Homo sapiens: one gene and its partners. The protein of the gene in region 4 purifies or fractionates together with the protein of the main gene of each other region. This does not show direct contact. Each region holds a gene or a part of one and is shown on either strand. Other genes may lie near its edges.

Region 1 (7,675 bases), on a different chromosome or scaffold from region 4:
GTGCCCACTGTATTTTTAACCGCCCACAGGAAGCTCCTATCTCAGTATCACCTCATCTGAGTAAGTGCTGGGCCGTGTACCTTGACCTACAGTCACCCCAACCGTCTTCTTCCCCTGGTTCATCCTTCCCCTGTCATGAAATAGAAAGCATAGTCTTTACCATGGACCACTTAGGGTTGTCCTCTTTGCTAGATGGGTCATAATGGGGATTGTTTTTCTCAAACTGTGTGTGGTCTGGGTAAGCCTCTTTCACGATCTGAAACCAAAACAAAAGCTTTGAATCATCTGCCTGCAGTCAGCTCCACAGCCAATCTTTTAATCCATATCCAACTTTCATTTCTTCCCTGCACATTCTTAACCCATCTGCCTTGCTGTACAGCCAATGGGGGCTCAGATATTTGGAAACAATATATAGTCTAATATATAGACTAGGAAATCAACTCTGTTTTTACAAAAGTCTTAAAAACATGCTCTAAAAACAAATGGCAAAGGTTATTACTGGTACCACTGTTTTTTTCCCCTCTGCACAGTTAATAATTTTATCCTGATAAGCTTGGAGGAGCTATCATCAGGCCTGTTTTCGAGTGAGATCAAGACTTAGAGGTGGAGTGAAGTCTGTGCTAGTCGGACCTGAATGAAGGCCTGCTTTGAGTTATCAGATAGGAAGGGGCCAGGGCAGTTTTTCCCTATTCCTGTAAAAGGGGGATGGGGTGGGGGGGAGTGTACTTTTTTGTTGCCTAATTAAGGTATATCCCTTTATATCTACTTAAGTTAGTCTCCCTGGAGGAAAAGGGATTCACACCAAAACCTGCCCAACTAACCTTCATGAGTCCTGCGATGCCTGGCTCTTTGCAGTTGCTATGGTAGAAGAAGGCTTCTTCTCCCAGCTTCATGGCTCTAAGGAAGTTCCGAGCCTGTCCCGGGAGAAGAAAGAGTAACTATCCTCCCACCAGCTGGAAAGTACTAGCTTTTAGCAGAAATCAAGTCTGCTTTTAATAGATGGGTGATTCTTGTCTGCAACTCCTCAATTCATTAGAAAGTCCTTCCCCTTTGCCAGGACACCCAGACTTTTACCAGGACATTGGCCAGAACACAGGCCAATTGAAAATTTCATGCAGAGTACTTAAGGCATTTTTTAATACATTATCAGGTTTGCTTCTGAGAAAAAGCAACCTTGGCCAAGAGGTTCTGCTACTGAGTACGTCATGAGGAGGAGGCAGGCATTCATCCCACCTGGGTCTCAGGCGACCTCCTCCTTACCCTCTTACCTGGTAGTTACGAACACCATCCCAGCATGTTGTCTGTTTGGGCTGTGCTTTGAGATCCTCAATGCTGAACTAGGCAAGAGGAAATAAATTCAATCATTAAACAATCCTTGGCCAGTTAGTAAGCACATATGGAAGCAGACAGTTCCTTCCCCTAAAATGAGAGGGGCCACTGGCTATAGAGGAAGTATGTAGTTCACCGGGAAGTGGCTCCACAGAGACACTTTTGCTGGGTGAATGTAAGTAAGCCTTGTGTTACCTTGTTATCCTTGCTAATTATGAGGATTAGCTGAATGAATAATCTAGGTGATAAAGTAATCTGCTAGTTACTTGCATTTTACTTTATATTTATAATAGTTCTGCTTATATTTTTCCCAGGCTATATTAAATTCCCTGAAATATACATCAACTGTTGGCAGGGAGACACCTAGGAGCATGGCAGGTGTTCAGAGAAAGGTAACCTAAGATTGAGGTTGGCAGACTATAGCCTTCAGGACAAATCTAACCCCATGCTGGATTTTGTGAATAAAGTTGAACTTGAACACAGCCACAGCTGTTTACTTATTATCTGTGGCCACTCTCTTGCTACAAGGGCAGGGTTGCAACAGAGACTGTAACACGCACAAGCCTACAAAATTTACTATCTGGCCCTTTGTGGCAAAGGTTAGCCAACCCCTGCCCTAGATACACAGGTTCACAAACCAGCTGATGATAATAAACCCTGCCGATTTTATTCATTTTTACCTTTTTCCTTCCCTTCAAAGATAAGAAGCTGGGGATGGAACCCTATGGTGTCCCATATTCACTTCTCATTTAAAAAACACCATGAAGGGACTGGAGACAGGTCAAGGGTCTCACCTTCACATCTACACCTTTCTCTAGGCGGCTCTCTGGCTCTGACTTCATCAGCCAGTGGCTGCTTAGATTCTTCAAACAGTTTTTAGTGGCTGAAGTCTTCTGAGGGTTGGAGTCCTCCACTTTAGCTAATGCCTCACCTGAGTTCTCAGTTTTGGTGCGTTTTCCTGATAGTCCCTTGTCTGCAATAGGAGAAGCAAAAAGAAAAGATCATGCTTGTTAAAGGCAATGTTTCATAATGGAAAAAGCTTAGCTTTGGAGTCAGACCTGGATTCAAATCATGGATCCATTACCAGCTGTAGGAACTTAATCTTACTGTTAAGAAGCTTTCCTTATCTATAAAAATTAGACAAGAATACCTACCTTACAGGGTATCTTCTGGATTATCTATTCAATAGGGTAAGAACACCTTACAGGGTTGTTCAGGATTAAAGGTCCGGACAGTAGTCAATACATGTTTTCCTTTCCTCACTCTCTCTTCTATGCCTTTGCATAGGAAAGAGGAAACTGAGCACCTACTTGCAACTATTTTGAAGCTTAAATGAGGTAATACAAAGGGCCTAGACAATGCCTGGCATTACAATAAGTGCATAATAAAAGCATTATTATTCTCATCTCATACGTCTTTCCTTCTTGCTCACTGTGGCTCCTGGCCCATCTCCTTTCTGCTCCTTGAAGGTGCCAATAAAAGTTGAAAGAAACAGTTCATTCAGGACATTGTAGAAAAATGGTGATGATTCGATTTCATCCCAAGACAATCAGAATGTGCCTGGAACACAGTAGGCATTCAGTAGCTAAGTTGTTAAATTACTATATGACAGGGCCCAAGGTCTATGTGTTACCCTAACCCTAACTCGGTTAATCTACATAACCTGTGAGATGTTCTACTCTTCATCTGGGAAGCATGCTCCAGATCACACATCCAGTAATGGTGGAATCAAGATATGAGGTCAGCACCTGTCACTGAGGTCTATCTGAAGCTACTTAATGACTATACTGCCTCTGAATTTAGTCAAAGTCCCTACATCAATTGTCATTAAATACCATTTATGGCTGTCTAATGCTCTGAACCCAGCATACCTTCCTAACCTAGTTTCCTAATGGCCCCTTAGGAGTTAACAGGCCCACTGCAAACACCACATATTGATAAATAACTGCAATGTGCTGTAGTATATCTGGAACCCCTGTCATTCCCAAAAGAGGTACTTTCTGTACCTTCCAATGTTCCTCCTCCTCCATCCACTTAGAATGCCATCCATCTTTGTGATTATAAAAACGACATCACGTTTTCTTAGTACTAAACTTTGCCCGTGGAAAGTCTCCCATTCTTCAAGGCTGGGCTCAAATTCCACATCCTTCTCGAGGCCTTCCCCGTGATTCCTCCCTCCATAAACTTAACAATCCATTTTCCTGAACCCCATCACATCTGTTTGCAGTTCACCCGCAAGCAGGCGCTTTATATTCTTTAGCACGCCACCTGGTATCTCAAAGAGTCTTTGTGCACAACAACCATTGCCTGAATAAACAAGAAAAAGGAACTGTAGGTAGGAGCTTGGTGAGACAAGTAAAGAAGATGGAGAGTGATTAAGGATAATGGAGTAAAAATATCACAAAGGGTTCTCAAAAAGCAGGGAGTGAAAAATGAGTACTAAACAGGCTCTTCGAGAAAAGTTTTTTCTTGGGCTGCCTTTGTGCAGCCTAGGGGCAGCTCACCTGAACCAGAAGTCCCAGCCAGCCTCTTCCGGGGTCTCGACATGGTCACGCTGCAGGGGACTTTAGTGCGGACGATTCTGGAATCAACGGAGATACAAGAAAGAATGCTAATGTCCTCCAAAACCCGCGCAGAGCGAGATGGAGGCAACGAGAGGCAGCCTAGAACGTCTCCAACTTTTGCGAAACACAGACGCCTACGTTTGAGCCCTCAAATCCTTCCCTCCGTTATCTGCGCCATTTCCATCTCGCATAACCTGCCCCTAAACTCTTCTCGGTTCTGTCCTTGGTCCTTCTCATCCAGGAACCCCTATCTCAGTATGTAGTTCACTGGGAAGTGGCTCCACAGAGACACTTTTGTTGGGTGAATATAAGTAAGCCTTGTGTTACCTTGTTATCCTTGCTAATTAGGATCAACTGAATGGATAATCTAGATGATGAAGTAATTTGCTGGCTACAGACCCAACACTCTGCAGACTCGACTGCGGTCCGCCTCCGCTGCGCCGCAGGCTGTGCAGCGCGACCCCCGCGGCGCTTGGTGGGCGGTGCATCTCTGCGGCGCCGAGGCCCCGAGGACTTCTGGGAATTGTAGTCCTGTCCCCTTGGGAGCCCGCCTGGCACCTGGGTTGTTAGGGCTCGTGGGAGGACTACAACCCCCAGGGTGCAGTGGGACAGGCGTTGCCGGGTCGCAGGTCCCGCCAGTGCGAGCGCAACGGAGGTCGAAGGCGTTCAGACTCTTAGCTGAACGCGGAGCTGCGGCGGCTATGCTGTGGAGCGGCTGCCGGCGTTTCGGGGCGCGCCTCGGCTGCCTGCCCGGCGGTCTCCGGGTCCTCGTCCAGACCGGCCACCGGAGCTTGACCTCCTGCATCGACCGTAAGGATCTCCTGGCGGGCAGTAGGACAGGTGTCCAGAACCCCGGCGGACATATGTCCGCGAGGGGCTGCAGTCTCCCCGTTCCATCCAGTCACCCCGGCGTCAGCTCCCCTTCCGGCCAGTCACCCCCCCGGCCTGGCTCCCTACTCCGGCCGGTCACCCCCGGCCTGGCTGCCCCCTCCGGTCGGTCACCACCATCCGGGTCCCCATCTGGCCCGTCACCCCTGCCCGGGTCCTCCTCCGGCCGGTCACCCCCGCCCCGGTCCTCCTCCGGCCGGTCACCCCCGCCCCGGTCCTCCTCCGGCCGGTCACCCCCCGCAGGTTCCCCTCCGGCCGGTCATCCCCCCGCAGGTTCCCCTCCGGCCCGGGTCCTCCTGCGGCCGGTCACCCTCGGATGCTTAGAGAAGTGAAGAAACTTGGGGCTTGGTTGTTGTTGGGTTGGTTGGTTTTTAATCATAACAGTAGGTCATAAAAGCAGTGAGAATATAAGAAGCTGGCTGGGTGCTGATGGTGACAACTGCACAAGAACTCCAGGTCATACAAGATTTGCTCACACACAAAGATTTGGTATCTTAACACCTCTGGCTATAAGACACTTTTAGTGTTGAAACTCATGCAGGAAAAATAATTATTATTGCCAGTGGGAAACTCTACCAGAGCTGACAAACTTGAGTGTCTTTAGGCTCTGAACAGTAATTTGAATGTAGCGAGGAGTGGTGGAGACCCGGCCAGTTTGTGACTTCTCTGCCAAGAATGTTTATAAACACTTTTTTCTTCTGAAATATTTTTAAATTTATTTTAAATAAATGGCAGTTTTCTTTACAACAGAATAAGTCCCTTAGATATCAGATCTATAAAGTACAGTAAGGCATAGAATACTGTTTTCTTCTGAATGTCCTAAAACTCATTCAAGAGGTGCTGCCCTGGCCTAGCGCTTAGAATTTGATAACCCAGATTACCCTGGTTGATACCGAAGCAGATAAGGAATTATTTAGAGGTGGGTTTTGTTATTGTTTGCATCTTGCTTACACTTGAGTGGCTCTGCAGTCAAAGGCTTTTCCCATTTCATTTGGAGTGTTTTTCTATTTAGCTTTACCTTTTTAGTGTATATGTATTGGCATCTTGAGCTCTGCTAGTAACTATGTATTGGCATCTTGAACTCTGCTAGTAACTGGCAAAGTTCATGAGTGGTGGTATTTGTTTTGTTTTTATACTGTATTTCCTTCTGGGAACTTGTGTTTACTTATGCATATGATTTGCATAAAACTATTTCCTTCCATTAGAATGCAACTCAGATTTATTTCTTAAGCCTGTGGTTCCTTGAACTATTTGTTTTAGGAAGTAGCCATTTACAGAAGAAGAAGATTTGTTAACATTTAATGAGCTCTTGCTAGGATTGAAATAGTCATCCTTTGTGTGAATGGATCTTATTTATTTATTTTTTTGAGATGGAGTCTCTTTCTGTTGCCCAGGCTGGAGTACAGTGGTGCGATCTCAACTCACCGCAACCTCTGCCCCACGGGTTCAAGCAATTCTTGTGCCTCAGCCTCCCAAGTAGCTGGGATTACAGCACATGCCACCATGCCCAGCTAATTTTTATATTTTTAGTAGAGACGGGGTTTCACCATGTTGGACAAGCTGGACTTGAACTCCTGACCTCAAGTGATCCACCTGCCTTGGCCTCCCCAAAGTCTGGGATTACAGGCATGAGCCACTGCGCCTGGCTGGATCATATTTATTTTTGTAACCCCAGCACTGCTACCTAGTAAACACCCAATAAACATTCTTTTGGAAATGATCTTTGAGCCATGGTCTACAGTAACAGCAACCCTTGTACAAAATTGTGTGAATAAATGGCCTGACCCCAGTCAGAGAACCATGAATTGTTTATCCCTAACTCTGTTCCTGAGGGTAATACCCAACATAGGTTTCTGCTCTGAGTTTCTCAAGGCAGCCTAATCGTTAATCCTCAGAACTCTTCATTTCTGACTTTCCCATTTTAATGAGAGTACTGATCACAGAAAGCAGTGCCCTCTCCAGGCTCGCATAGCCAGCCATTACTGATGCCCAGATTTGCCCCAAGGAACAGACTCTGGCACCTGCCCTTGTGTTCTTCTGTGAGGACTGCATCGCTTGTAGGCACTGAAGTAAATTATTGCCAAGTGTGGCGCCATAGTCTTCCCATAGTGCTCTTTTTTCTTTTTTTCTTCTTTTGAAACAGAGTCTTGCTCTGTCACCCAGGCTAGAGTGCAATGGCACAATCTCAGCTCACTGCAACCTCTGCCTCCTGGGTTCAAGCGATTCTCCTGTCTCACCCTCCCAAAGTAGCTGGGATTACAGGCATGCGCCACCACACCCAGCTAATTTTTGTATTTTTAGTAGAGGCGGGGTTTTTCCATGTTGGTCAGGCTGGTCTTGAGCTCCTGACCTCAGGTGATCTGCCCGCCTCGGCCTCCTGAAGTGCTGGGATTATAGGCGTGAACCATCACGCCCAGCCCATAGTGCTCTTCAGTGTCAGTTATAATGACCAAAGTTCTAGCACTGTGGCCTCAACCTCTAGGTCTACAACTGCATTTTACTAAGTGCTAGGATAAGAGATGTCTGGAAGTCCCCTATCCTGTTCTAGGTTGATCTGGATGTGTGCTAGAACTGTCCTTTCTCCATATGACAAGTGGAATAACGACAGAAGCTGCCATTCTCTAGCTGTTAAAGGCTATACCGTGTATGGGAAATACTACAGTAGATCCACTTTCACAACTTCGTGGTGCTTCTTGTTGGCAACACCTTGTTGGCAACACTGACCCTGTCCTAGAACAGTATATGCAATCCTGCCCACAGCTTCCATGGGACTTAATGAAGAGCAGAAAGAATTTCAAAAAGTGGCCTTTGACTTTGCTGCCCGAGAGATGGCTCCAAATATGGCAGAGTGGGACCAGAAGGTAGGCGTTTTTCTTGTGCTTAGACGTTCTAAC
Region 2 (7,430 bases), on a different chromosome or scaffold from region 4:
TCTTATCACCTTTAGACATTATTGATGATTCCCAACTATGAGAAATTAAGATTTAGCCTCTCACTTTTCCAACAAATTGTTACCCGTTATAGTTAGTTCTGAATATTTTCCTCATCTTCTACCTTCCAATGCTATATAAGGTTACCTTTATTTTTATAATGTTAAGTTAGGACACATTCATATATTTGTTCAATATTAATAATCACATCTTTCAGCCTTTGCCTATAGGTTGATTCTAAAATTTAAAAACCAGTAATCAACACTTATTATGGGATAGTGAAAATATTGTTTATTGCTAAGCCAAGTGCAGTGTTACTATTATAATTTTTTCATTTTTATGTAATGACCAGTGTGCCACTGATGGAAAATATTCCTAACATCAAGATTCAAAAAAGTCTTTTTCCTTATATTTTATTAATTAAATCAATGTAAATGAATAAATTTGTTTCCTGTTTGTACCATAACTTTCTTATGAGTTTAGCTTTTCTTTTTGAGAAATAATGCTTCTTCATTAGTCACTAAAAGCTGTGGCTCTCTCTGGTTCATTAACATATATTAAATTGCTTTGTATCATCAGAAATGTCTTGAACCCTCTTACCTACTGTGCACCTCATCTTGAACTTCACAGTATTATTTATTTATTTGTATTTTACTTTTATGGGGTCTTGAGAGAAAAGCCAAGTACATGTCCTAAATCATTAAAAACTATATAGTTTTTTATGTTGCAATCATTTTTGTCTTACCTTTTTCTTTCCTAATTAAAGAGCTATACTTTTTTACTATTTTCAAAACTGTCTGTAGCATCTGGTTAGTAATTTTTGTTTGCTCTTTTTTTAAAAAATATTTTTAATTCCAGTTACTACTAGTTTATAACTAATAGCTCAAGAGCTTATCATAAGAGTTAAAATATGGGTAGATAAAATTGTACTTTTTAAAATGACTGATTATGTTGAGTGGATTCGAGTTGTCTTTTGAATTTAGCTTAATGTGATTTAAAGGGTTCAGTTGGCCTGGTTCAGAAGAAGGAAATAGAGAGTCGAGAAAAGGAGAGTAGATTTGATAAGAAAATTAAAAAGTTAATGTGATTTACTCATTTCAAAAGTGCTCAAGGCCCCAGAGACTTGGTCTGAGCACCTTAGCTAAAGAAAAGCATATCTAAATGACACGTATCTGAAATTTGAGCCAAAGGTTGATATGAGTTTTATGTCAGTAAATTTTTATTTGTCATGTCATTTCAGCTTCTAAAAATTTTCCAATACACTAACTTTGAGAAAAATAGAAATTACATCTTATCAACTCAAGATCGCCTTGTAGGGGGATTTGCCAAGTGGCCAGACAGTCATCCAGGTAATTATTTTCTTTGTGAATCAGAACAACCTTTATTTCCTGAATAGATCTTCAAGCATCTTTATCAGAAAAGGCATATGATAGAAAATATATCCAGTTGCAAAGTTACATTAAATAATATTTTTTAAAAGGTATATTGTGTAAGCTTAGGATAAATTTAGGGTATTAGAGAGTATAAATGAAAGAGTTTATTATCAAGATGCATGGGAATAGTGTGCATTTTTTCCCAAATATTTTACTTAGTAATGTTTTATTTCATTTGCAGCAATAATGTAGATGGTCTGAATGGGTCCTTTCCAAAGAAGAGAATTATTTAGGCCATCCAAAGCCGTTAGGATTATTAGTCATGACTTGAACTAAGTATAATAAATTACTCCCAATCCTGAAGGGAATCAGTTCTTACTCTTTTCAGAAGTCATTAAATAGGCCGGGCACAGTGGCTCATGCCTGTAACCCCAACACTTTGGGAGGTCAAGGCAGGTGGATCACTTGAGGTCAGGAGTTCAAGACCAGCCTGGCCAACGTGTTGAAACCCCGACTCTACTAAAAATACAAAAATCAGCCAGGTGTGGTGATGCGTGCCTGTAGTCCCAGCTATGCGGGAGTCTGAGGCAGGAGAGTCACTTAAACCCAGGAAGCAGAGGTTCCAGTGAGCCGAGATTGCACCACTGCCCTCCAGCCTGTGTGACAGAGCGAGACTCTTTGTCTCAAAAAAAAAAGTCATTAAATAAAATATTTCAAATCCTGAATATATGTGTTTCTCACTTCCCATACTCTTGTTCTCCAAATTTCAACAGATTCAGACAATATAAATGGCATGGCACTCAAGGCCCTTCCAAAATTTGGCTCCTCTCCCACCTCTAGCATCATTCTGCAGCCTACACCTCACCCGACATATGTTTTCACCTCCAGCAAAATGAGTCTATATACAGCTTCCCTATAAAAATCCATTTAAGTGTGTTTTGAAATAATTTCAAACACTGACACTTTTGATAAGCAAGTAGTTAAAGAATTAGTTACAAATATGAAACTAGACACAAGGAATGATTGTTTTTGCCAGTATTGCAATAGAGTCGTGGTTTTTATTATCAGCCTGGAAAGTGCCTCATCAACTCATCTTCCATCACAGAACTGCTGTGGTTGGAATGTGTGATTGAATCAGAATATAAATAAGGAGCTCATGAAATCAATTTTTGTATTTGAAATGAGCAGGAATATTTCCTTACACCCCTACTTGCCTATATTTTCATATAAAACATGCTTCCTAGGCCAGGAGTTTTGGCTCACGCCTGTAATCCCAACAGTTTGGGAGGCTGAGGTGGGCGGATCACTTGAGGCAAGGAGTTTGAGACTAGCCTGGCCACATGGTGAAACATTGCCTCTACTAAAAATACAATAATTAGCCAGGCGTGGTGGTGGGTGCCTGTAATCCCAACTACTTGGGAGGCTGGGGCAGAAGAATTGCCTGAACCTGGGAGGCAGAGGTTGCAGTGAGCCAAGGTCACACCACTGCACTCCAGCCTGGGCAACAGAGCAAGAGTACATCTCAAAAAATAAAATAAAATAAATGGCCGGGTGCAGTGGCTCACGCCTGTAATCCCAGCTTTGGGAGGCTGATGCTGGTGAATCACTTGAAGTCAGGAGTTGAAGACCAGCCTGGTCAATATGGCGAGACCCCGTCTCTACCAAAAATACAAAAATAGCCAGGCATGGTGGTGCACACCTGTAGTCCCAGCTACTCAGGAGGCTGAGGCAGGAGAATTGCTTGAACCCAGGAGGTGGAGGTTGCAGTGAGCCAAGATCTCACCATTGCACTCCAGCCTGGGCGACAGAGCGAGACTCTGTCTCAATCAATCAATCAGTAGTAAAACATGTCTTCTTAGAGAAAGTGTACATTGCTTTCAAAGTCGTAAGCCAAAGTGTGTCTTCAGAAGTTAATTTCTCAAGCAAAATAATATCTTGAAATTTTTGATATCTCTAGTGCCTCAAAACTGAGAATTATTTTGGTCTTCATTCCATTTTTTAAACCAGTGCAGGGTACTGTTTTAACAAATAATGGGAGTAGGGAAATGACAGTCTCTTAGGAAACATTTCTTGTATAAACATACTTGAAATACATTCAGTGTTTCCAATAGCTTTTTTAAAAGAAAGTTCTTGAGGCTTTTTCCGGAGAGTTCAGTTGCTAACTTTAACATTTGTGTAAATATTTGGATGTACTACTTACTTTTTACAGATACATTACAATGTTTTCAGAGTATGCAATAGAAAGCATAGAAGGGCTTTGCTAAATTGAATTTATGTGTAAAGATCTGGTCCCAGAATCTTTAATCATTTTAACAAGATTCTTTAAAATTAAGCTTATTCTTCATTCTAGTGAATTTAGTGGCAAATTTGATACAAAGGGATTTTATATACATTTATGAAAGAAACTTCAAAAGAATAACCTTTTATTGTGGAGTAAATATATATTTCAACATCTAAAGTGCTTTATTATGGAGTAAACATATAGTTCCACATCTAAAGTGCTTGTACGTTGCCACTTACAGATAAGGAGTTTTTTTAAAAACACAATTTGAGGCTTCAAACAATTGAGTTCTGATCTCATTGGCTGTTACAAAAATCTTTTTGAGAAACAAATAAGTTTTATTTGTTACTTTACCCAGAGAGATTTTAGTTTTACACAGTTCTATTTTATGTTATTATAGATATATATTTTCTGTTGTACTTTTTCCTAGAAAAGTTTCCTAGTTTCTAGAAAACAAAGCTTAATGTTGCTTTGTACCCTTTGTAGTTTTAGAATAACTATATGGATGTAATATGACAGGTGAAATCAAGTTTATTTTTTATAGTCTGAAAGTCAAAGGAAAGTGAGCCAGAAGAAACCTAAGTATTTTCTGAAAAGGCCTAAAAGGTGATCAACATGGGCCTCCATTAGTTAAATAACATTTTCACAATGGCATTGAGTAAGCACAGCTATTTGTCATTTCTGTTTTGAAAAATAAGTGATACTGTTGTAAGTAAAGCTTTTTCTTTAACTCTTTTGACAAAGTTTGATGTGGTAAGATGTGTTGAACTTTTTGTTGTTGTTGTTTTGAGACAGGGTTTCATTATTTTGCCCAGGCTAGAGTGCAGTGATATAATCATGCCTCACTGCAGCCTCAACCTCCCTAGGCTCAGGTGAGCCTCCCACCTCAGCCTCCCGAGTAGCCGGAACTACAGGCGCACGCCACCATACCTGGTAATTTTTGTATTTTTTGTAGAGATGGAGCTTCACCGTATTGCCCAGGCTGGTATCGAACTCCTGTGGCTCAAGGAATATGCCCTTCTCGGCCTCCCAAAGTGCTGGGATTACAGGTGTGAGCCACCACACCCAGCCTGTTTTGAACTTTAATAGCTCTTAAGGCCATAAATGTCGGCCAATTCAAAAATAGAAAAAAATTTTGACTGGTACAAAACTGTCTTTTTAATGTTCCTATAACTGCAAAGCTCTGAGCTCTTCAGAAGTCTACATAAGACTCCTAGGCAGGAATGGCCATGTGATTTCATTGGCCACTTTAATAGAAGAGGATCGCTGCCCCCTGAAAGATGGGAAACTAGTGAGCCAGTGCAGAATTGTCATGGTATGAGCACTCATATTATTTCAACCAAATAGAATGTGAGTTTGTTTTTATTGTCAGATCAGATATTTTTACAATGACTGACATTACCCTAAATAGGAGGATTAAATATGGCACAGCATTCCAGAATGGATTATTTTTGCATAAGCTCCTTTTATTTAACACAATGTTAGGATAGTACTGCATATGGTTTAGGAACTTTCAGAGGTAAAACGTGGAGCGAGGGATATTGCAACTTAGATTCAGAGTTTTGTTTTCGTTTTAAAGAAAAAAAAACTTAATGATATAGCATTGAAGCTACTCGTTTTCATGTTCTCTAGTAAGCAAGAGGGGAAACTCCCCAAAGTGAGAAGTCTTACATATGACTGCTGCTACTCCTGTCTTTTAATCACAGAGGTTATGGACAGTATCAGCTCTTCAGCTGGAAACTGTTTTCCTTTGTTAATGATATTTTCATGAATAAAATATTTTATTTTGATCATCTGAGTTTTTTTTTTAATTGGTGTTTGAGGCTTTGAGAAAGCAAATATTTTTAAAACTATATTAGCATTTCTCTAAACTTACTTTTAATGGAGTGATGGGCTGGTAAATATGTGGCTAAAATATTCTGTAGAATGTACAAGTAAGAATGCCTATTATGATGTTTTAAATGCCTTCTTTTCAGATGCTTTGCATGCATACTTTGGGATCTGTGGCCTGTCACTAATGGAGGAAAGTGGAATTTGTAAAGTTCATCCTGCTCTGAATGTAAGCACACGGACTTCTGAACGCCTTCTAGATCTCCATCAAAGCTGGAAAACCAAGGACTCTAAACAATGCTCAGAGAATGTACATATCTCCACATGACTGATTTTAGATTGGGAGGGTGGGGGGATTTGTAGCATAACTGTAGCTCAAGTTTAAAAGCCATGTATAACCAAGTGTGCTCTTTTTTTAAAAGGTAGAGTCTTACAATCAAATCTCCTGCTGATTTCACTTTGGGATATGGTCTTGAGCCAGTAATCTTTATACTGGGTTTCAAGAAAATCTTTGTTGAAGTTTGAACCACAACTTTGTCGTGGTTCTTAAATGTTTATACTGTATTTCTAAGAAGTTGTTTGAGGCAAATTAACTGTATGTGTGTAGGTTATCTTTTTAAAAACTCTTCAGTGCAAATTGTATCTTATTATAAAATGGACACAAATTTTCAAGTTTACACTTCATATAGCATTGATAATCTTCAGGTGAACACTTAGTGATCATTTAAAAAGCTCACTGCTGATCGTAGAAAATTTGCTTTAATTAATTAAGTATCTGGGATTATTCTTTGAAAACAGATGACCATAATTTTTTTTAAAGAAGAGTGACTTATTTTGTCTTATTCTTAAGTAAAGTGTGCCAATTAAACCTGTGTGGCCTATATAAATGAAGTTAATAACTTCATAGTAAGAATAAATAGGTTTAACTAATGTGATAGTTTTCTAAAAGGAGATTGTTTGAAGACAACTATTATGTAACTGAGGGAAAAGCAACTTAACTGTATGTGATTGTGAATGAGAAAGTTTTGTGCTATGTGGGTCATTTATCTAGACATTGCTGTGGTGAATACCAGTTATGTTTGATTTTATTCTCAAATCATTAGTTGCCTTTTTTTTTTTTTTTTTTTTTTTGCTTTCTAGGAAGAAAACAATCTTTTTTATCTAGAAGGAAAGATACTTTGTGTTTTCATTTTTAGCCATTTGAAGTTTTTAATTTATTGCCCCCAGTGTGTTAGCTGCTCTAATTTCAAACTAATACTTTTCTAATTTTTTTCAAATTAAATAAGTAAAAAATACAAAAACAGAACCATTCAAACAGATTCAGTGGTGTAACTCAATACATGGTCATTTTTATTCTCATATTTTCAGGTAAGTGAAAGGGAAATGCGACCATTTAGAGGGTAAGAAATAGGGTTTTGTTTTTGTTCATTGTTTTGTTTTAAGTCTATGAACTAGCTAATTATAAAGGAGGTAGTATAAAAACTCTTCATTAGTAATTAATTTATCAATAACTCATATCCGTTACTTGCTCAGTGACATTCAGAACTATTGCGTCTAGTACTGAAATGGGGAAAGAAATCTCTTCACTAAAGGAGTTGGCTTTAAGTTAGTCTTGGTGATAATAAATGTTGAAATACAAGTATCAGTATAAAAACTGGATTACTGGTATCACTGTTTAGGCATTGTAATACTTTAAATGTTATCTTTTTTTCTAAATCAGAGGGAAAAAAATGTTGTGAAATAACAGTCCTTCCCAAGGGAAACACTGTGTACTTGGAGAAATGATTGATTTATTATTGGCATGCTTAGTTTTAAACCTGAGTTTGCCAACTGTATGTTTTTTAATTAGAAATAAAATAAATCTTCTGATGGTGGGGGAAAAAGTAAGCTTAATAACAGATGTTATCCGTCTATGGGTTATTCCAGTTGCTACTATTTAAATCCTGGC
Region 3 (7,430 bases), on a different chromosome or scaffold from region 4:
TTTGAACAGGAATAATATAAAAAATTATTAACTGGTAACACGGATTAACTCCTAAAAGAAGTAAAGAGAACCTAAAGAATATAGGAATAAAGCTGGGTGTGGTGGCTCATGCCTGTATTCTTAGCACTTTGGAAGGCCGAAGTAGGAGGACTTCTTGAGCCAATGAGTTCAAGACCAGCATGGGCAACATAGCAAGACCCTATTTTTACAAGAAAATACATTTTTATGTTAGCCAGGTGTGGTGGTGCATGCCTGTAGTCCCAGCCACTGGGGAGGCTGAGATGGGAGGAGCTCTTGAACCCAGAAAGTTAAGGCTGTAGAGAGCCATGATCGCACCACTGCTTTCCAGCCTGGGTGACAGAGTGAGATCCTGTCTCAAAAAAAAAAAAAAAAAAAAAAAAAAGAATATAGAAATAGCAGATGCAGAGAGCAACCACTAGCTGTAAGGTAGATGGAGAGTACCCAAGGAAGGAACATACTTAGAAGACTCCCCACAAGCTCCTAACCTCCTCTTCCCCCATGCCAGGCTAAGATGCAGATCTTCTTGGGGCAAATGTGGCTATAGCAACTGGATAATAGAGAAGTTCACTGACATGCCACAGATTAGAGGTAGAGAGCTGGAAGCCATCAGCTGGGGTACTGGTAAAGCTTGCAGGGAAGCTGCCCACTAGGATGTCATTGAGACTTGCTGGAAAGCCACCTGCCGGGGCAGGTGTATGTAAAAGTGAGAAATGTCCTTCCCATCCAAAGCTTTTTAACTCTATCTTCAATAGTTTGTATTTGGGATACTAAATTACATTTCAGGGCACACAACTTTGATTTCAGAAATTAACAATAACCAGACCATATCATATGTTAAACGTGGTTGAGAAAATATTAAAAGCTTCCCGTTGGCACCCTGACATAAGAGCAAGAAGCACCAGAACCAGGAGTTGAGCACTTTCTTGGCAGTGTCCCTCCAGCACCACCTACTGATGTGGATAACTTTGTGCCTGCTGGCAAAGGAGAAATATTTTGAAGGTCCAGGTCCAATATTACAAAGCAGAGCAAAGATGGGTGGATTAGAAACTAAGGGACATAACTAGTGAAGGATGTTATCATCCTTCACTCATGTTATACTGCTTACTTTTCATGTTGTGCAATTATAAGGAGTAAGTAATTCTAAAATATATTACACTTTTTCCGTACATGGTACTTCAGTTTCAGTTTTCAGCTCAATTAGGAGCCATGCAACATCTGAAAGACCAATTGGAACAACGGACACGCATGATAGAAGCAAATATTCATCGGCAACAAGAAGAACTAAGAAAAATTCAAGAACAACTTCAGATGGTCCATGGTCAGGGGCTGCAGGTAATTGTTATATTTGAATACAAACAAAGCATCCCATTCACATTTTGGATTTCTAGGAAAATTAACTTTTCTTAATTAAAAGTGAGATGCAAGAGATACGTTTTATCAATTCAGTTCAATAAATATTCACTGGTTACCTACTCAGTATGATTATACTTACAGTCTCTAAAGATAATTTGTTTCTGAGGGTATTTCTGTCAACATCCTTGTTTCTCCAGTCATCTTTTTTTACCAGTCCAAATTTTAGTAAGTTTGAATCCATAATATAAAAATTATATTTTACATAAAGTTTTAGGTACATCTTGGGTACAGAATTTATAAATCAATCATCAGTAATATTTTTATTAAGATACCAGTATGTATGATTCAAATTAGTCTTATATGACCAACCAGCAGGACCACTCTAGGAGACTATGACTTTGGTAAAGGGAAACTTGGAGTGAAAACTACTTCTGTGTGATGTTATAAATTATAAATGATAAGTGATACAGAGCTGTCAATCCACAGACTAACACTAGTTACACTTTTTCTAACAATTGGAAACAAGATAACTGAAAGATTGAATATAAAGTTTCATATTTTATTCACTACTTATTTATTGCTAATTCTTCAAAGTGACTTAGCCTTGTTACTTGCTTTTTAAACATACTTTGTAGCTTGATTTTGCCTTCTTTTTAATGCTCATTCTTCTTTTCAATCTACAAAGCTCATTTTAACATAATCTTTATTTTTAAAGATGTTTTTGCAACAATCAAATCCTGGGTTGAATTTTGGTTCCGTTCAACTTTCTTCTGGAAATTCATCTAATATCCAGCAACTTGCACCTATAAATATGCAAGGCCAAGTTGTTCCTACTAACCAGATTCAAAGTGGAATGAATACTGGACACATTGGCACAACTCAGCACATGATACAACAACAGACTTTACAGAGTACATCAACTCAGGTAATGTTACTGAGCACAGCGGGCTATGGAGTGATCAGTGGTTGGAAGGCACACTATTGCTGAAGCAGAAATAAAGCTCTAATGATAAAATATCATTTCAAAATTTAATAGTATTTAGAAAGTATAGTATTGAGAGTGATTATTAAAATATTTTGTGCAAATCATGTTAGTATCAAATATTTTCAGCTTTTTTTTTTCTTTTTTTTTTTTTGAGACGGAGTTTTGCTCCTGTTGCCCAGGCTGGAGTGCAATGGCGTGACCTTAGATTACTGCAACCTCCGCCTCCTGGGTTGAAGCGATTCTCCTGCCCCAACCTCCCGAGTAGCTGGGATTATAGGCACCCACCACCATGCCAGGCTGATTTTCATATTTTTAGTAGAGATGGGGTTTCACCATGTTGGCCTGGCTGATCTCAAACTCCTGACCTCAGGTGATCGCCCACCTCAGCCTCCCAAAGTGCTGGGATTACAGGTGTGAGCCACTGCGCCTGGCTGAGCTTTAAAATATGTCACAATCTGTTTAAAGATGTAGTCTAGTAGTTATACCAAGTTCTTGTAACTTAGACTATTTCTGTGTTTAAAAGGTATGACTTGCTCAAGAGGCTGACCAGGAAGCCTGTTCCCATATGTGCAGAATAGACTGTTGGGGGAGGGGGCATAATGGTTTATTGAATATTCCAGAAAATGTTGGTAATTACTGTAGATCTGTGACTGTAAATCCCAAGGATTTAAATGAAAAATAGAAAAATGCCCACTAATTAGTCATTCACTTTGGGCATTTAACAGAAATTCTTTGAGTATATTTTATATCATCTCTATTACAATCACACTCCTTTCTAAAGTCATAGCTTGCCTTCCAGCAAGATATTCAAGACTAATTCATTCTCAGTTACCACGAGTCATTCCTTTGTGGTTATATTTCCCCCAGAGTAATATATCCTGCCACTTCTTTCTCTGTCATATTGTCATATTGTTAGAATGATGAATTCTAGCATACTTCCCAAATAATTATTTTCAGTTAATCTGTCTATAAAATCTCTTTATTTTTAACAGAGTCAACAAAATGTACTGAGTGGGCACAGTCAGCAAACATCTCTACCCAGTCAGACACAGAGCACTCTTACAGCCCCACTGTATAACACTATGGTGATTTCTCAGCCTGCAGCCGGAAGCATGGTCCAGATTCCATCTAGTATGCCACAAAACAGCACCCAGAGTGCTGCAGTAACTACATTCACTCAGGACAGGCAGATAAGGTAGTTGTCATATTTCATTTGTTATTTTTAAAATTGTAAACCGATTGATTAGAAAACAATAATTTGATTTCTTAATCAAATTTTTTAATGTGATTTTAATGAGATGCTCACTGCAGCCAATGTTCTTAAATTTGAAATAAAAACACTGAATGTATTCATTGTTTAAAGACTTCATAATTAAAGGGTAACAACAAATTTTTTTTCTTGTCCAAAAATATGCTACAAAATATTATAGAATACAAATTCTGCAGCACACTGTTAGAAAAGGTTTATGACAGGCTCTGTGTCACTGTGAAGCTTTTGTCTTTTCAATATAGATGCTAGAGAATTTCCATGTAGTAACAGTGGTTAGGGTAGCTTACCTTTTTTAAGTTTGTTAAATGCTCAAAATATATTATCTCAAATAGTCATTTATTAAAAGAAAATGTATGTGAGGGCCTCCTTTTATTTCCCAGATAAGAAAAAAGTGAGTTTTCAGTAATTAGCCAAGGGATCTATAGCTAGTTAAGGTGATGAGGAAGGGAACTCTGAACACAGACCTTGGTGTCTTCATTTCAGTGCTTGAGTGCTTAAGCATATATTACAGGAAGGTTTTGTGGACTGCTCTGGAAAAACAACCATCTATAACTTATTTTAGTGCACTGATCACCTGAGTAGTGCACATTCTATCCAATATGTAGTTTTTTATCCCTCACCCCCACCATCCTCCTCCAAAGTCTATTATATCACTCTGTATGCCTTTGCTGTACCCATAGCTTAGCTCCCACTTACAAGTGAGAATATATGGTGTTTGGTTTTCCATTCCTGAGTTACTTCACTTAGAATAATGGCCTCCAGCTCCATCCAAGTTGCTGCAAAATGCATTATTTTTTCTTTTTTTATGGCTGAGTAGTAGGCCATGGTGTATACATACCACATTTTCTTTCTCCACTCATTGGTTGATGGGCACTTAGGTTGATTCCATATCTTTGGAATTGTGAACTGTACTGCGATAGCCATATGTATGCAGGTGTCTTTTTGATACAGTGACTTCTTTTCCTTTGGGTAGATACCCAGTAGTGGGATTGCTGGATCAAATGGTAGATCTACTTTTAGTTCTTTGAGAAATCTCACGTTCCCACCAGCAGTGTGTAAGTGTTTTCACCACATCTGTGCCAACATTATTGTTTTTTGACTTTTTAGTAATGGCCAGTCTGGCTGGGTAAGGTGATATTTAATTGTGGTTTTAAGTTGAGTTTCCCTGAACATCTATCTTTTGAGGGGGACAGAAACCACATCTTAGCAAACATTTGAAGGCCTACCTAGATGAGTATGGCATCGTTCCTTCCCCAAGGGAAAGACCAAACTAGTAAAAGCAATAGAAAGATAAATCGGTATTGTTTGGGGTGATGAATACTTCAGAGGTCTTTAGAAAGGAGGAAGTGAGCAGTTTTTTGTTGTGTTGTGTTTTGTTTTGTTTTGTTTTTGTAAGCAGTTTCATGGGTTGAGGCAAGCAGGTGAATAAAGGTGTGGTCAGGAAAGCTTCACCAAGGCAGAGATACTTGCCCTGACTCTTCAAGACTTGAGCTTGGCTTTGGATGTGGGTGTGGCATGGAGTCTAGGGAGGCATTCTGGGCAGAGGGAGCCCAGAGTATACAAAGCTGCAGAAGTGTGAGTTACACGAAAGCAGATTAAAGAAAATATTCTTATCACATTTACCAGTGAGCCATGGGCTAATTCAGGTATTAATTTAAGATTATGGAGAAATCAGCACTTAGTACTTCTGTGACTAAGTGTACTTTGTAAATATTACTTATTTCTTTGGACTTTCTTAATATGGACAATTTTAATTCTTTTTTGTTTTGCATTAAAGTATTTGGTTGTGTAGTGTATAAAATAGAGTATTTTATTGTCAAGATCTGTACTAAGTGTAATATTGTTACATAAACAGTTTGTAAATACAGTTATGTCATGCCACATCTATGTTAGTGTCATATCTCACTGTAATGACCAATGTTATAAACTTCATCTCACAGAAAAGGCAAATGGAAATAATATTGTTCCACAAAGAAGCATCATTTTTTTGGGGTTATTGTTCTTTCATTTCAAAAAGCAAAAGGAAGCAGGGAAAGAGGGAAAAATTAATGAATTCTAGCACAGAGGACGCTATGCTGCGTTGATGAATTTATAAATTGAGAGGAGTTTTTATTCACTGTTAGAATGTCATTTGGTTTTGAATTAAATTTGTAAGCTACAATTTTGTGTAAATTTCTTCTATAAACCTAGAGTTTAAAAAATACATTATAATAGCTTTGTTTATTCATGAACTGTGTGCCAGTGTAGCAGATGAATCATGTGCCACATATATCTGACACCCCTAGTACCTAGTAATTTTATAAAAAGAAAAAGGTTTTTTTTTATAGATTAAAAAAAATTTTTATTGTGGAAAAATACAAATGACATAAAAGTTACCATGTTAACCGTTTTAAAATATACAGTTCATTGTCACTGAGTACGATTGTTACCATCTCCCCTAACCATTTCCAGAACTTTTTTCATCTTCCCAAACAGAAACTCCATACCCATTATACAAGTCCCCATTCTTCTCTCCCCAACCACCATTCTACTTTCTGTCCCTGTAAATTGGACTAGTCTAAGTACCTCATATAAATGGAATCATACAGTATTTGTCCTTTTGTGAATGGCTTATTTTACTTAGGATAATGTTCTCAGGGTTCATCCATGTTACAGCAATTGTCAGAATTTCTTTCCTTTTTAAGGCTAAGTAATATTCTACTCTACTATGTTTTGCTTATTCATTCCGTCTGTCAATGGAGTCTTGGGTTACTTCCACTTTTTGGCTCCTGTGAATAATGCTGCTTATGATTATGGGTGTACAAATATCTCTTTGAGTCCCTGCTTTCATTTTGGGGGGTTATATAAGCAGAAGTGGAATTCCTTCATATAGTAATCCTATAGTGAATTTTTTGAGGAACTGCATACTGTTTTCCATAGTGGCTGCACCATTTTTACATTCCCACCAGCACTGCACAAGGTTTCTCTACTTGCTTGCCAACACTGGTCATTTTCTATTGTTGTTTGTTTTTTATAATAGCCATCCTGATGGGTATAAAGTAGCCTCTTGTTGTGGTTTTGATTTGTATTTCCCTAATGATTAGTGATGTGGAGCACCTTTTCATGTGCTTATTAGCCATTTGTGTATCTTCTTTGGAGAAGTGTTTGTTCAAGTTTGACCTTTGCCCATTTTTTTAATTGGGTTGATTGTTGTTGAGTTGAAGGAGCTCTTAGACATTCTGGTTACTAATCCCTTATCAGAAGGATGATATGCAGATATTTTCTCCCATCTGTGGGATGGGACAGTTACCTTTTTACTCTGTTGATAGTGCCCTTTGATTCACAAGATTTTTAATTTGATACAGTCCAGTTTATCTGTTTATCTGTTCTTTTGTTGCCTGTACTTTTGGTATCATATCCAAGAAATTATTGCTAATTCCAGCTGCTAACTATTGCTAAATCCAATGTCATGAAGCTTTTCCCCTATGTTTTCTTCTAAGAGTTTTATAGCATTAGCTCTTATGTTTTGGTCTTTGGTCCATTTCAAGTTAATCTTTGTCTGTGATGTGAGGTAAGGATCTAACTTTATTCTTTTGAATGTGGATATCCAAAGACGTTTTGTATTTTTGTTACACATTGATCTTGCTGTATGAATTTTTTGTTTTACTGTTACACCAAAGGGAATCTTTTAAAATGAAACAAAGTAGGAATATACAGACCTTGAAAAACAAACTGGCAATGTCATTGGGTATTATCTTAGGTAAGTATTTACTCCACTGCGTTTTATGATGTATACCTTGTACTTTGGACTCCAATTTTTTT
Region 4 (7,430 bases):
ATTTATTATTATTTTTTAATTTCCTCTTTACTAGCCCATGCCTGGCTCTTAGTTAGGGCTTAATGATGTTGTTGTTGATGATGATGGTGATGGTAATGACCATCATCATCATATCCAGTCCTCAGAGAGTCTGTGCAAAAGTAAAGGAAGGCAGGTGCCCAGAGTGTGTTTTGGGACCAGGGCAGTGGCCAGCTAGAGTGTAGAACTTGGTATGGAGCCAGGAGTAACAGGGAGGGCCGTGCTGGGCCATAGCTGGCTGCTGATTTCCCCTACTTGTGCACCCCCAGGTCATGAAAACCTACCACATGTACCATGCAGAGAGCATCAGTGCGGAAAGCAAGCTGAAGGAGGCTGAGAAGCAGGAGGAGAAGCAGTTCAATAAGTCAGGAGACCTCAGCATGAACCTGCTCCGGCACGAGGACCGGCCCCAGCGCCGCAGCTCTGTGAAGAAGATTGAGAAGATGAAGGAGAAGGTGAGTGGGGGCCCTGGGCTGGGAGCGATTGGGGACAGGGCACAAAGGGGAGGGCCATGGTCTTGGCGGACAGCCTTAGCCTTCCCCCTTATTCCCCTGCATCCCAGTGGGGTGGTGGTGGGTAGGGGGGATGGGACAATGTAGCCAGCATCTCCTCTTTTGGAGATCGGTGTCCTAGTGGAAGCGGAGCCAGGCATGCCCGTGCTAACACTGGTTAGGCCTGGCTTAGTGCTAAGGTCAGCAGGCAGACGAGGTGCTCAACTCACAAGAAAGCTGAACTGTGACGAGATTCACACCCAGCAAGCACCTTCTCAGATGAGCTGGAATCACAAGGCATTAGCGGGAGCAGGGGCTTGTTCCAGAGGCCAATTTGATGGCCAAGGGTAGGGGCGGGGGGTGAGGTGGGAACTGATTGCTGAATGTGTCTCAACAAGAGGGACCAGCACCTGGAAAGCTGGTGAAGGGCTCATTCCAAAATTGCCATTGCCAATTCAAAGATGAGAGAGTTAGAATCCCTGTGTATTGATTCTGGAAAAGTCCTTTAGTAGGGTGTGGTGGGAGGAATTCTAGCTTTGGAGTCAAATGAGCTGGGTTTTGAAAATGCCACGTTTACAACACCTCTCTGAGCTGCAGTTTTCAAATCTGATAGGAGTGGCAAATTCGTCTCATCTCTCATGTCAACTCTGATCAATTGCCCAGAGCACTGGGCTGAGAATTGTGAAACTCGAAACAGATTTAGTTAAAAACAGTGCTGTAGGGCTGGCCACAGTGGCTCATGCCTGTAATATCAGCACTTTGGGAGGCCAAGGCGGGAGGATCGTTTGAGCCCAGGAGTTCGAGACCAGCCTGGGTAAAATGGCAAAATTCCATCTCTATTTATGAAAAAAAAAAGGCAAAGAATTTGAATAGATGTTGCTCTTAAAAAAACATGTATGAGTGGCCAATAAGTACATGAAAAGATTGTCTGGGCCAGGCATGGTGGTTCACACCTGTAATCCTAACACTTTGGGAGGCCAAGGTGGTCAGATAGTTTGAGCCCAGGAGTTCGAGACCAGGTTGGGCAACATGGCAGAACCCTATCTCTACAAAAAATAGAAAAATTAGGCAGGTGTGGTGGCATGTGCCTGTAGTCCCAGCCACTTGGGAGGCTGAGGTAGGAGGATTACCTGAGGGAGGTCAAGGCTGCAGTGAGCCATGATCACATCACTGCACTCCAGCCTGGGCAACAGAGTAAGACCCTGTCTCAAAAAAAAAAAAAAAAAAAAAAAAAAGATTGTCTCTATTATTAGTGATTAAAGAAATGCAAATCAAACTCAGTGAACTATCACTTCATACCCACAGGGATAGCTAGAATTAAAAAGGCAGACTATAGGAAGTATTGGTGAGAATGTGGATAAATTGGAATCTTCACACACTACTAAAGGGAATGTACAGTGATTCTATCACTTTGGAAAGCAGTCTAAATGTTAAACATAGACTAAGTTACCATGTGACTCAACAATTTTATTCCTAGGTATCCACCCAAGAAAAATAAAAACATATGTCCATTCAAAGACTTGTACATGAATAGCAGCATTATTCTTAATAGCCAAAAGATGGAAATGACTCAGATGTTCATCTGCTGATGGATGGTTGAATAAAATGTGGTATATCCATGTGATGGAATATTATTCAGCCATGAAAAGGAATGAAGTACTGACAAATGCTGCAACATGGATGAACCTTGAAAACAGTATGCTAAATGAAAGAAGTCAGTCACGGAAGACCACATATTGTGCAACTACATTTATGAAATGTCCAGCATAGACAAATCTATGGAAATAGAAAATAGATGATTGGTTTCCAGGGGCTAAAGAAGAGGAAAATGGGGAGTGACTGTGAATGGGTGCAGCATTTCTTTCTGGGGTGATGAAAATATTCTAAAGTTAGATAATGATGATGGTTGTGTGACTCTGTGAATACAGTAAAAATAAATAAAAATAAAATAAAATAACCAAGCAGGGAATGATAGGACTACAACATAGGGAGAAGGAGAGAGGTAGAGTGAGTGCTGACTGGAAGTCCAGAGGCCGATTTTTAGTTCAGAGTTGTATTTTTGGTTCGATTAGCTACTTGGCTCTTGGGCAAGCCACTTCTCTCCAGTTCTCATTTCCTCATCTATAAAATAGATGAGTTTAATGAAAATACCTTTAACATCCTTTCTAGGTATAACATTTTATGAGTCTATGAAGGGCTAAAAAATGGTCTCAGGGTCATGGTCATAGTTGTCCACTGGAAATAGGCCAAGAATATCAAAACTCTCTGTGGGGGGTCAGGTGCATGGCTGGCGTAGGATGTAACTGCCAGGACCCTGGGGAAAAGTTAGAGATCTCTGAAGAGAATTAAAAGGATGAGAACTCACTGTGGAATAGGAAGGTGTAAGAATGTCTAGGCAAAGGAGAAAAACCATTTATTTACAGAGACCTGACTTTTTACACAGCAATGGGACTCATCAGTCTGAAAGGAGCAGGGGACAGCTCTCCAGCCCACTTCCTCTTTCCTGCTCCATTCCCAGGCTGGCTTAGCCAGGAGCAGCTCCCTGGGGGGCAATTGGGTCCCTGCTGAGATGGGCGGCTCTGGCTGCCCCACCCCACCTCTCCCATCCAGTCATCCTCCCTCCCTCCTGTCCTCCAGTCACTGAAAATGACTGAAAATGACCTTGTGCAGGGACAGTTCTGGGCGCTCCAGACCTAGCAATGAACAAAGCAGATCAAGTCCCTAACCCCACTTATTTTCTAATGGGAGATCACTGACAATCAACAAGTAAATAAAAGGGTAGAAAAAAATACAGTTTCAGGTGGTGGAAGTGCTTATTAAGAAAAGAGCCGGGCAGGGGTGGGCAGAGGGAGTGGGAGAGGTAGATGAGCTTGTCATCGAAAGCCAATCTGGCCTTGAGACCTTGGGCCAAGGCTGAGGGAACCATGAGTTTGAGGGCCTTGAGACAGGAATGAATTTTGCCTCTTAAAGGATGGACCAAGGAGGCTGAGCAAATGAGGGGGAGCCTGGGGGAAGGTGGAGCTTGAGAAGTGGATGGGACAAGGCCATGGAGGGCTTCTCAGGTGCGAGCAGCAGTTTGAGACATCACTGGAGGGTGCTGGGTAGGGGTCTTATTGATTGATTGATTGAGACGGAGTCTCCCTCTGTCACCTAGACCTGGAGTGCAGTGGTGCAATCTCTGCTTACTGCAACCTCTGCCTCCTGGGTTCAAATGATTCTCCCATCTCAGCCTTCCAAGTAGCTGGGACTATAGGTGCATGCCACCACACCCAGCTAATTTTTGTATTTTTAGTAGAGATGGGGTTTTGCCCTGTTGGCCAGGCTGGTCTTGCTCTCCTAACCTCAGGTGATATGCCTGCCTCAGCCTCCCAAAGTGTTGGGATTACAGGCCAACGCTCCTGGCCAGGGATCTTATTTACACCCCACCCTAGCAAGGACCGTCAGAGGCTGCTGCTCATCTAGTGTCCTCATCGGCTGTGCAGGTGCAAGGTGCAGGTGTAAGGGGAGCTGCCTGAGTCCAGGTCCAGCCCTTACTCATCTAGCAGATGGAGGTCTTCCATAGGTGTGGCTGTGCAGGGCTTGGGTGGCAGGCAGCTACTATAAAGAAAAAAAAAACCACTGGGCCGGGCATGGTGGCTCACGCCTATAATCCCAACACTTGGGAGGCTAAGGTGGGAGGATGGCTTGAGGCCAGGAGTTCCAGATCAGCCTGGGCAACATAGTGAGACCCCACCATCTCTAAAAAACTTGAAAAACAAAAACAAAAACTAGCCAGGTGTGATGGCATGCATCTATAGTCCCAGCTACTCGGGAGGCTGAGGTGGGAGGATTGCTTGAGTCCAGGAGTTAAGGCTGAAGTGAGCTATGATCACACCACTGCACTCTCACCTGGGTGACAGAGCAACACCCTGTCTCAAAAAAAAAAAAAAAAGGAATAGAAAATCACAAACCCCGTCCTCTTAAATGGCTTGCTCTTACATCTACTCTTTTCTTCTTCCAGAGGCAGGCCAAGTACTCTGAGAACAAGCTGAAATGCACAAAGGCCCGGAATGACTACTTGCTCAATCTGGCAGCCACCAACGCAGCTATAAGCAAATACTACATCCATGATGTCTCTGATCTGATCGATGTGAGCTCCCTGGGGAGTCTGGGACTGAGCAGGGCCCACACCAGGGCTGGCACATGTCACTGGCTGAAGGAGGGGCTGGTCTTTGTCTTTACCTGACATTCTCGGGTAGCCACAGCTCTTTTGAGCCCTGCTGGAGGGGAAGGGCAGTGATTTGGGGAGGTGGAAAATGAATGTTACCTCGTGGTGTCTATTTTCACGAGTGGGACATGGGCCTCTGGTGGCCCCAGTGCAGTTGGCTTGGGCAGTTGTATATCCAATGGCAACTTCCCAAGTACCCTCCTGGACACCAGGTCCTTTGCTGGGTTTGAGGGGTTCAGGGGGGAACCATACACAGTTCATGCCTTGGGGGATTTCCCAGTGTGGTAAAGGAGATGTTATTAGTAAAATGTTTGGCGCCCCTAGGGCCACTCAGCCAGACACGTGTACATGCGAAAGAAAGTAGCGAATGAGACAGACTTAATTATACAGATCAGCTTTGTGTGGGGAAGTTATCTCGGGAGAAATCGGGCAGCTTAAGCAAATGGAGAACGGAACACTGACTCCCGAGTACCCGCTGTGCAGGACACGCCACAGGGACAAGCAGACTGGGAGAAAGAACACTGTGAGCGGTGGTGCTGGGGAGGGCTTCTGTGTCATCTAAGTAGGAGCCAGGACTGTTTCTCTCATGTCCTCCTTCCTGCACCGATGGGGGAGCTGGCCCTGTCCATGTTTAGTAAAGGCTTGGTATGGTCGATGGACTCTTTTCCTGGTGTATCCTGTCGGGAAGTCAGGGGGCTCCTGCTTTTCCCGTGGCTCCAGAGGGGGCCCCATTGTCAGCATCGCAAGGAGAGGGAGCTCCCAAATGGCCCAAGGCCAGACCTTCCTCTTTCCTGCTTTTCGCTTTCTTTTTTTGCCCTTTCAGCCCCTTTATTCATTCATTTACCATATATTAATTGAGCACCTGCTGTTGTCTGGAACTTGAGGAGCAGGAGCAGTGGGTTGGCCCTCGGGGAGCTTACCTCGCCAAGGACATGTTGATAGGTGATTTTAATACTAAGTGGCAGGGGTCACAGTGAGAGAGGTAGAGGGAAATGTGGACCCCTGGAGGAGGATCACCTGACCAGCTCTGAGTGGGGAGAACATCAAGGAAGCTTTCCTGGAGGAAGTGACCTCTAAACTGAATTCCGAAAGAAGGGTATTCCAGGCAGAGGGGATGCATGCACACCACCCTAAAGAAGAGAAAGATGGGCTCACGCTTGTAATCTGAGCACTTTGGGAGGCCGAGGCGGGTAGATCACAATGTCACGAGTTCGAGACCAGTCTGGCCAACACAGTAAATCCCTGTCTCTGTTAAAAATACAAAAATTAGCTGGGCTTGGTGGTGGGCACCTGTAATCTCAGCTACTCGGGAGGCTGAGGCAGGAGAATCGATTGAACCCGGGAGGCGGAGGTAGCAGTGAGCCGAGATCGTGCCACTGCACTCCAGCCTAAGTGACAGAGCTAGACTCCGTCTCAAAAAAAAAAAAAAAAAAAAAAAGAGAGAGAGAAAGATGGTGAATATAGGGAACCTAGTTCTGCTATTGCCCAAATCTCAACCGCAACTCCCCTTGAGGGGCGCCGTGAGGTTTGTGCAGTAGGATTCCAAAGTGCCTTGGGGCCTCCGGGATGGAAGATTCGGCTGTGGAAAGGGAGGTAATTGTAAGTCACTGTGGTGGCCAGTGACCGCCCCTCCACATCCTGGCTGTCACCCATAACCTTCCGTTGTTGCCTCTCCCCAAGTGCTGTGATTTGGGCTTCCATGCCAGCCTGGCCCGCACCTTCCGGACCTATCTCTCAGCTGAATACAACCTGGAGACCTCTCGCCACGAAGGGCTGGATGTCATTGAGAATGCAGTGGACAACCTGGATTCCCGAAGTGACAAGCACACAGTCATGGACATGTGCAATCAAGTCTTCTGCCCTCCACTCAAGTTCGAGTTCCAGCCCCACATGGGGGATGAGGTAGGCTTCCTCCTGGAGCCCGGGCTTGGGGCTGCTTCCCTCTGTTCCCCCATGTGCTCCAGTACATCATCCCTGGTTGCACGTACAGAAAGTTTCTATCCGACGCCTGGGGTCAAGCTCCTGGTTCATGGGCTTCCCCAGCTGAGGAGTTTACCACTAATACCCTCATCTTGCTGTCTCAGGTGCCCCCCGTGCAGAATTACAGGACCTTGGCTTCCCTTATAACCCCTCCCAGCTATGTCTAGAAGACTCCAAGGGAGCCCCAGTCTGCACACAGGCTCATGTTCTAACCCCACATGTGCGGGTGAGGTCCACGGGAAGCCTGGGCCTCACTGTAGCCTCAACACAGCCATTCAGGCTGGTGCATTCCACCAGGGCGCTCCCTTCCTCCAACACTGCAAGCCTTTGATACACCAGACGATCGAGTTTCCTTCAGTGCTTGTGCTGCTCAGATCCTTGTTATATTCTGAATAAAACAAACGAAAAACAAATGGAAAGAAGGCCCTTGTCACTGGCCCCAACACAGCCCTACTCGTTACCCAAGGCTTACAAAATCCCTTATGCAAATAGTTCCCTGAGCTTGTCTGTGTCACTGCTCCCTCGGGGCATTGGGGGAACCCACTCCAACAGTGTCCCAGACCCAGCCAGCCTCTGGGTCCCAGTGAGGCTCAGCTGGGCCACCCGTGGCACCTGCTGGGAGGGGAGGGGCAAGGAGGCATCCGAGAAGATGGCATTTGCTAGACCCTCTGCATGGCTCTGCCCACTTACTTCTGCAGGGCTGCACTGCTGTGTCTGCCCCATCCCTCTCAGTC

What was found.
Region 1: the proteins of SRGAP3 (region 4) and ACAD8 purify together in Homo sapiens (affinity purification with mass spectrometry; 3 studies listed by BioGRID and IntAct, with this or other methods). This does not show direct contact.
Region 2: the proteins of SRGAP3 (region 4) and PGGT1B purify together in Homo sapiens (affinity purification with mass spectrometry; 3 studies listed by BioGRID and IntAct, with this or other methods). This does not show direct contact.
Region 3: the proteins of SRGAP3 (region 4) and CLOCK purify together in Homo sapiens (affinity purification with mass spectrometry; 3 studies listed by BioGRID and IntAct, with this or other methods). This does not show direct contact.

The regions. Positions count from the first base shown.
Region 1 is NC_000011.10:134,249,007-134,256,681, forward strand, and holds the start of ACAD8 (isobutyryl-CoA dehydrogenase, mitochondrial), read left to right. Parts: upstream 1-4,561; 5' UTR 4,562-4,594; coding exon 4,595-4,703; intron 4,704-7,541; coding exon 7,542-7,642; intron 7,643-7,675. Other genes in the region: THYN1 (thymocyte nuclear protein 1), read right to left, coding at 161-256, 822-914, 1,269-1,337, 2,124-2,302, 3,834-3,876.
Region 2 is NC_000005.10:115,210,782-115,218,211, reverse strand, and holds part of PGGT1B (geranylgeranyl transferase type-1 subunit beta), read left to right. Parts: intron 1-1,238; coding exon 1,239-1,347; intron 1,348-5,628; coding exon 5,629-5,810; 3' UTR 5,811-5,904; coding exon of another isoform or gene 5,905-5,934; 3' UTR 5,935-7,430. UniProt on the Homo sapiens protein: Catalyzes the transfer of a geranyl-geranyl moiety from geranyl-geranyl pyrophosphate to a cysteine at the fourth position from the C-terminus of proteins having the C-terminal sequence Cys-aliphatic-aliphatic-X.
Region 3 is NC_000004.12:55,438,556-55,445,985, reverse strand, and holds part of CLOCK (circadian locomoter output cycles protein kaput), read left to right. Parts: intron 1-1,200; coding exon 1,201-1,353; intron 1,354-2,089; coding exon 2,090-2,299; intron 2,300-3,351; coding exon 3,352-3,554; intron 3,555-7,430. UniProt on the Homo sapiens protein: Transcriptional activator which forms a core component of the circadian clock.
Region 4 is NC_000003.12:9,057,439-9,064,868, reverse strand, and holds part of SRGAP3 (SLIT-ROBO Rho GTPase-activating protein 3), read left to right. Parts: intron 1-287; coding exon 288-473; intron 474-4,509; coding exon 4,510-4,638; intron 4,639-6,396; coding exon 6,397-6,618; intron 6,619-7,430. UniProt on the Homo sapiens protein: GTPase-activating protein for RAC1 and perhaps Cdc42, but not for RhoA small GTPase. May attenuate RAC1 signaling in neurons.